Linked DNA regions of Homo sapiens. The protein of the gene in region 1 interacts with the protein of each later gene in a pairwise test. Each region holds a gene or a part of one and is shown on either strand. Other genes may lie near its edges. The genes, in order: NR1D1 and APOA4.

Region 1 (2,960 bases):
GGCACTTTGAATGGTGCTCAGCTGCCCATCCCATCCCCAGATCTTCAACTGACAACTAAGTCATTAGCTGCAGTCGATATTCCCAAGGAAGGCAACTAAGGAAGGGGGGCACATATGCGAGATGCCACAGGGGTCATGCCTCATACTGAAAGCAGAAGCTGAAGGTGGCCTGCAAAGGGTCGTAGGTGTTGCTTGGCCATGCCATGTCTACTGTGTGTTGGGGAATTGCTTATTAACTCCAAGATTAGGGGCTCCACATGGTGAACTGAGTGGCCAGCAATGTTTTGGGCAGACAGGTGGGGATGAGCACAGTGGCACCCTAGGTCCGGAGACATGGCGGCTGACACCCCCTTTCCTTTTGTTCTCTCTCCAGGTGGCGTCATCACCTACATTGGCTCCAGTGGCTCCTCCCCAAGCCGCACCAGCCCTGAATCCCTCTATAGTGACAACTCCAATGGCAGCTTCCAGTCCCTGACCCAAGGCTGTCCCACCTACTTCCCACCATCCCCCACTGGCTCCCTCACCCAAGACCCGGCTCGCTCCTTTGGGAGCATTCCACCCAGCCTGAGTGATGACGGCTCCCCTTCTTCCTCATCTTCCTCGTCGTCATCCTCCTCCTCCTTCTATAATGGGAGCCCCCCTGGGAGTCTACAAGTGGCCATGGAGGACAGCAGCCGAGTGTCCCCCAGCAAGAGCACCAGCAACATCACCAGTGAGTACCTTTCCAGCTGATTCGGGGGAAGGGAAGCAGGCCAGGGCCAGATTGGGAATGGGTTTTTACGTGACACCAGTCTTGCCAGGACCTATTCTGGCTTCAGGGATTTCTCCTAGAGTGGCACCAGCCCCTCTTCAGCCCAGTTTTGTCACTCCAGTGCCCCTCAACACTGGAGTTCCTCCTTAGCTTTTCCCTCCCTGGATCTCCGGCCCAGAAAGCCTCCACACCTGTGGCCACTCAGCCTGGCCTCTCCTGCTCACCTGCTGCCCGTCTCTTCCACAGAGCTGAATGGCATGGTGTTACTGTGTAAAGTGTGTGGGGACGTTGCCTCGGGCTTCCACTACGGTGTGCACGCCTGCGAGGGCTGCAAGGTGAGGCGGACTGGGGGTAAGGGCAGGGGCAGGTGGCCCCCTCCCCCTGGACACAGAGGCCCAGCCATGATGGAGGTGGTCACTAACCACCCCTGCCCTCCAGGGCTTTTTCCGTCGGAGCATCCAGCAGAACATCCAGTACAAAAGGTGTCTGAAGAATGAGAATTGCTCCATCGTCCGCATCAATCGCAACCGCTGCCAGCAATGTCGCTTCAAGAAGTGTCTCTCTGTGGGCATGTCTCGAGACGGTGAGGCAGCATCCCCACATCCTCCCCCCTTCTTCCGCCCAAAGTTTCTGAATTAATCCTTCCCTTTAAAAAAGTCACAAATGGAGACACATCATACTGTGAATCACATGTGCCAGGGGATGTCCATCCTTCATTTGCTTGGGTCAACATATACTTCTATCCCATTGGTCCCTCGGGTCACCTCCTACCAGCAATCCCTCCTAGGGAAACCCCCTTGATGGGTGGGGACTTGCTGGTTTTAGTTTTGATGTGAAACCCCAAGCCTTCAGGGCCTTGCCCTTTCAGGAGGAAGGAAGGAAGAGAAGCACGTGAGCATGGTTGAGAACTTCCTGATGCTGTTCTCATCCTGTTGCAGCTGTGCGTTTTGGGCGCATCCCCAAACGAGAGAAGCAGCGGATGCTTGCTGAGATGCAGAGTGCCATGAACCTGGCCAACAACCAGTTGAGCAGCCAGTGCCCGCTGGAGACTTCACCCACCCAGCACCCCACCCCAGGCCCCATGGGCCCCTCGCCACCCCCTGCTCCGGTCCCCTCACCCCTGGTGGGCTTCTCCCAGTTTCCACAACAGCTGACGCCTCCCAGATCCCCAAGCCCTGAGCCCACAGTGGAGGATGTGATATCCCAGGTGGCCCGGGCCCATCGAGAGATCTTCACCTACGCCCATGACAAGCTGGGCAGCTCACCTGGCAACTTCAATGCCAACCATGCATCAGGTAGCCCTCCAGCCACCACCCCACATCGCTGGGAAAATCAGGGCTGCCCACCTGCCCCCAATGACAACAACACCTTGGCTGCCCAGCGTCATAACGAGGCCCTAAATGGTCTGCGCCAGGCTCCCTCCTCCTACCCTCCCACCTGGCCTCCTGGCCCTGCACACCACAGCTGCCACCAGTCCAACAGCAACGGGCACCGTCTATGCCCCACCCACGTGTATGCAGCCCCAGAAGGCAAGGCACCTGCCAACAGTCCCCGGCAGGGCAACTCAAAGAATGTTCTGCTGGTAAGGGCATGGGGGCGGGCGAGTGCGTTAAGAAGATTGGGGGGGCCTGGCAGAATGGACTTAGTGTAGGGCAGCTGGGGGTTCCTGGAGGCTGAGTGTGGGGATAGCATCTTCCCAGGAGAAAATGTCTTGCCTTGCAGTCTGGACTCTGCCTGGGAATCCCTAATCTCCACCTGGCACCTAATTGCTACTTTATCTGAAAGACCCATCCTTCAGGGCCACAGCCCCTAGCCCAGGCAGAATCTGGGGTCCAGCTCTGCTCGGGGCGTCCATCTGACCCAGCCTGGCTGACACTCCCCTCCTTCAATCTTTTCCTCCCCCAGGCATGTCCTATGAACATGTACCCGCATGGACGCAGTGGGCGAACGGTGCAGGAGATCTGGGAGGATTTCTCCATGAGCTTCACGCCCGCTGTGCGGGAGGTGGTAGAGTTTGCCAAACACATCCCGGGCTTCCGTGACCTTTCTCAGCATGACCAAGTCACCCTGCTTAAGGCTGGCACCTTTGAGGTGAGTGACCGTTTATGCTTCTGGTTTTTGTTTTTTTTGAGACAGAGTTTCGCTTGTCGCCCAGGCTGGAGTGCAATGGTGCGATCTCCACTCACTGCAACCTCCACCTCCTGGGTTC
Region 2 (4,609 bases), on another chromosome or scaffold:
TTGTCCGGTGCCTAGAATAATGACTGGCGCATCGGAGGCATTCAATGCATATTTGTTGGCTAAATGAATATAAGTAGGTTGCATATTTTGTCTTGGGATAATGTGTGACATCTTTTTCTGCCTCCCCTTAGAGGACTCCCCATGTACTCGCCTCCAGTCCACCAGGCCCTTACCTCTCCTGCAGTCTCATCTCCCCAATCCTGGGTGTCTCCTGCCAGGCCGCTGCTAAGCTCTGCCCAGTCATGGTTACCTCCCCACCTCCCCAGCTGCAAGGAGGATTCATCCGGCAACCAGTTGAGGCTAGATTCTCAGCAGCTTTATTGAATATTGAGAGGTGGTCTCACCTCCCACTGGACATGTGTCCTCAAGTTCATACCAGAACTTCTTTGGGACAGACAGACAGACAGGTGGCAGGGCAGGGCAGGTGTCCACGAGGGTGGGGCCAGTGCACCAGGGGCAGCTCAGCTCTCCAAAGGGGCCAGCATCTGCACCTGCTCCTGCTGCTGCTCCTGCTGCTGTTCCTGCTGTTGCTCCAGCTCAGGGAGGGAGAGAGTCTTGTCCTGGCTCTCTTTCTCCTTGAAGGTGCTGAAGAAGGAGTTGACCTTGTCCCTCAGGTCCTTCTCCAGGAAGCTCAAGTGGCCTTCCACGTCCCCCGCATGGGGGCCCAGTTTCTGCCTGAGCTGTTCCATCTGCTGCACCAGGGCTTTGTTGAAGTTTTCCCCGTAGGGCTCCACCCGGCGTCGGAACTCCTCCACCTGCTGGTCCAGGTGCCCACCCAGCTCTGCCAGTGACTTCTGCAGCCCCTCGGTGTTGCCCCTCAGGTTGCCACGCACGTCCTCGGCCAAGGGCGCCAGCCTCTGCCGCAGCTCCTCGGCACTGGCCGAGATCCTGGCCTTGAGCTCCTCGGCGTTCTTCTTCATCTGGAAGGTCAGGCCCTCAAGCTGGTGGTTGAGCTTCTCCTGCGTGTCCTGAGCATAGGGAGCCAGGCTGCGGCGCAGCTCCTCCACGGTCTGGTCAATCTTGACTTTGAATTCGTCAGCGTAGGGCGTAAGGCGTCCCTTGAGCTCCTCCACGTTCTGGTCGATCTTGGCCTTGAGCTCGTCGGCGTGGGGCCTCAGCGAGGCCTGCAGGCTGTCGGCGTTCTCCCGCAGCACTCTCTCCATGCGCTGTGCGTAGGGGGTCAGCTGGCGCCGCAGCTGCTCGGCCTGCGTGCTGACCTGGGTGCGCAGCTGGTCCGCGTAGGGCTCCAGGCGCTGCTGAAGCTCTCGCAGGTTGTCCCCGATCTTCTGGCTCACCTCATTGGCATGGGGCAGCAGCCGGGCCCTCAGCTCCTCCAGCTCCTTCCCAATCTCCTCCTTCAGTTTCTCCGAGTCCTTGGCCAGGCGTTCATGCAGCTCGGTGGCAAAGGGCACCAGCTTCTTCTGCAGGTCACCTGCGTAAGTGTTCACTTCTCCAAGTTTGTCCTGGAAGAGGGCACTGTGGGGAAGGGCACAAGGAGGCCACGTTACATTTGGCATTTACACGGCAAGACTTTGTCTGCTTGTATACCACTCGCCTTATGCACACGTGCTAGGACAGGTGAGTGCTCAGAGGTACCGAGTTCACCCTCCCTATGGTGGTGCAGATTGGAGAGGATGGGTGTCACAGACTAAGTTACGATGCTGAATTTCTATCTCAGGATCTCCCACATAGTTTGTCTCAGAATCTACCCACCATGTCACCTCCAGCAGTTTGCTTTCCCCTCCTTGTCTGCAGAGGGTGGGACTTTGAGGTCCTTCCCAGAGGGAGTGTTCTGGGCCATAGGATCACATTGTGTAACACAATGTTGTCTTCTTGACCTCTGCTGGGGTCTTCCAGTGGCACAAGGTGCTGCTTTCCTTGCCTGTGCCCAGGGGCCTCCCAAATATTCCCACCTCCCTCCCCTTGATTCCACTGGGGCCTGTCTTTCTGAAACGTATTAGAAATCAGCTCACGTGACATTTTCCTCCCTCCCTCTCTTCCATGAGCCTGAATGATAGGATGTGGCCATTTGTCAAACTCTAGAACGTCAAAGCAAAAGGACATGGCAGGGATTATTCGGTCCAAACTTCCGGTTTACATATGTGGATCCTAGGTTCAGAGGCCCGGCCAGTTAGTGGCAGGGCAGTGGGTATCCTAAGCTCAGGGCTCCTGTCTCTAAGCTCAACCCTTGCCAGTACATTGCATGGCCTTTAAGAATTCCCCGTCACCACCGCACACTGTAGTCCCTCTTACTTGAGTTGCTGGGTGAGTTCAGATTTCTGGAGATGTTCCACGGCCTCCTTGGCATTGTTGCTCAGCTGGCTGAAGTAGTCCCACATCACCGTGGCCACCTGGTCAGCACTGACCTCAGCCCTGGCTCCTGGGTGGTAACAGAGAGCAATTCATGAGGCCCCGTCTCCTGTGTGGCCCCTCTGCTCCAGCTCTGAGCTGCAGACTGGATGATGGTGGGGGTGCCTCAACCTGCCATTTTCCCTGTCTGAGCTTAGCTTTTTGGAAGCCACAGGGATATGTGAAACTGGTATAGCACCAATGCCAATGGGCCCACCACTGGGACTGGGCCAGCTCTCCTGTGAGCCACTTGGCAGCCAGGCAGACCTCATGTCCAGCTGGGGGCTGATGGGCACTCAGAAGTGTCCTTTTGCTTTGGCTCAGCCTCCATCCTGCACTACTCAGAGCAGCAGCCCAGGAGTGCCATCCAAAGACAGCTTCTACTCACCGGCGACAGCCACCAGGGCCAGGGTCAGGACCACGGCCTTCAGGAACATCCTGAGCTGCTTGCTGGGCTGGAGGAGTTTCTTGCCACACTGGATCCTCCCTACAATCAGGGGAGCTGACAGAGAGGTCCTCAGGAGAGCTCACCTGCGCTGCAGTGGGAACTGACTGAAGCTCAGAGCCAGCCAGACATTTAAACTCTCTCCCTATCGCCACCCCCCTGGCTGCCCTCCCCTCCTCCTTCCTCAGTGTGACTCCACGCTGGAAGGTGACACATTCCCAAGAGGCCTCTTGGACTTTTGTGACCCTGAGACTACGTGGAAGCTGACAGCAGATCAGGGCTCAGGCGATAGTTAGAAGTGGTGGCTGTTCCGTGCGTGGGCACCCCCACCCCCACCCCACCAACCTCAGCATGGAAGGGAGGAGGGGAACGGAAAACAGTAGGAGAAACACCTCAGGGAGCCCATGAGCCCGGGACTGATGCCTCGAGGCCCTGCTGGCGGCTCTGGGTTTGTGCCGGGCTCATGGGGGGCAAAGTCCACATCTCCTCTGTCTACCCCAGTGAAGACAGGTCCCCCCAGTCTCCACATCCGCCACTAATGCTGACTCCATCTCAGAGCACCAGACACTGGAGTGGGACCATCCAGGACTGCAGACAGCATAGTGAGCTAAAATCTAGGTCTCTTGTCAAGGTACACCCAAGAGGAGGGGGCCCTGGAGAGCCTTTGGGCAGATGGGTGTGGGAGACAGGGCCTTGTCCTGAAAGGGTTAATTGTAGAGTGCTTCATGTCCCACTCCCATGCTGTGCCTCCTTGGTCTAGTTATTCAAAGCCCTGAGCTTCAGTTTCTCCTCTGAACAATGGGATGGTTCAGTACATTAAAGAAGACATTGCTTGCGAAGTGGGTAGTACGGTCATCTCTCAGTCTCCATGGGAAATTGATTCCAGGACCCTCTGCAGATACCAAAATCCATGGATGTTCAAGTCCTTGATATAAAATGGCATAGTATTTGCATATAACCTAAGCACAGCCTCCCACATACTTTAAATCTCTAGATTACTTATAATACCTAATACGACGGAAATGCTGTGTGAATGGTTGTTATACTGTATTGTTTAGGAGGTAATCACCAAAAAAGTCTGTATATGTTTAGTACAGGTGCAATTTTTTTTTTTTTTGAGATGGAGTCTTACTCTGTCACCCAGGCTGGAGTGCAGTGGCACGATCTTAGCTCACTGCAATCTCTGCCCCCCAGGTTCAAGTGATTCTCCTGCCTCAGCCTCCTGAGTAGCTGGGATTACAGGCACCCACCACCACGCCCAGCTAATTTGTGTATTTACAGCAGAGACGGGGTTTCACCATGTTGCTCAGGCTGGTCTCCAACTCCTGGCCTCAAGCAATCCTCCCATGTGGGCCTCCCAAAGTGCTGGGCTTATAGGCGTGAGCCACTGCGCCCTGCCCAGATGCAATTTTTTTAAAACATTGTTTTTAATGGAGATGGGGTGTCGCTATGTTGCTCAGGCTGGTCTCCAACTCCTGGCCTTAAGTGATCCTCCAATCTCTGCCTCCTAAAATGCTGGGCTTACAGGCATGAGCCACTGCACCCGGCCCACAGATGCAATTTAAAAAAAAAAATATATATATATATATATATATATTTTTTTTTTTTTTTTTTTTTTTGAGATGGAGTCTTGCTCTGTCACCCAGGCTGGAGTGCAGTGGCACGATCTCGGCTCACTGCAAGCTCTGCCTCCCGGGTTCACGCCATTCTCCTGCCTCAGCCTCCCAAGTAGCTGGGACCATAGGCGCCCGCCACCACGCCCGGCTAATTTTTTTTTTTTTTTTTGTATTTTTAGTAGAGATGGGGTTTCGCCGT

Evidence for each region.
Region 2: the proteins of NR1D1 (region 1) and APOA4 interact in binary tests that used the Homo sapiens proteins (3 or more experiments, as listed by UniProt).

The regions. Positions count from the first base shown.
Region 1 is NC_000017.11:40,094,817-40,097,776, reverse strand, and holds part of NR1D1 (nuclear receptor subfamily 1 group D member 1), read left to right. Parts: intron 1-373; coding exon 374-712; intron 713-997; coding exon 998-1,086; intron 1,087-1,189; coding exon 1,190-1,334; intron 1,335-1,689; coding exon 1,690-2,333; intron 2,334-2,656; coding exon 2,657-2,842; intron 2,843-2,960. UniProt on the Homo sapiens protein: Transcriptional repressor which coordinates circadian rhythm and metabolic pathways in a heme-dependent manner.
Region 2 is NC_000011.10:116,820,406-116,825,014, forward strand, and holds APOA4 (apolipoprotein A-IV precursor), read right to left. Parts: upstream 2,900-4,609; 5' UTR 2,787-2,899; coding exon 2,738-2,786; intron 2,381-2,737; coding exon 2,254-2,380; intron 1,477-2,253; coding exon 462-1,476; 3' UTR 295-461; downstream 1-294. UniProt on the Homo sapiens protein: May have a role in chylomicrons and VLDL secretion and catabolism. Required for efficient activation of lipoprotein lipase by ApoC-II; potent activator of LCAT. Apoa-IV is a major component of HDL and chylomicrons.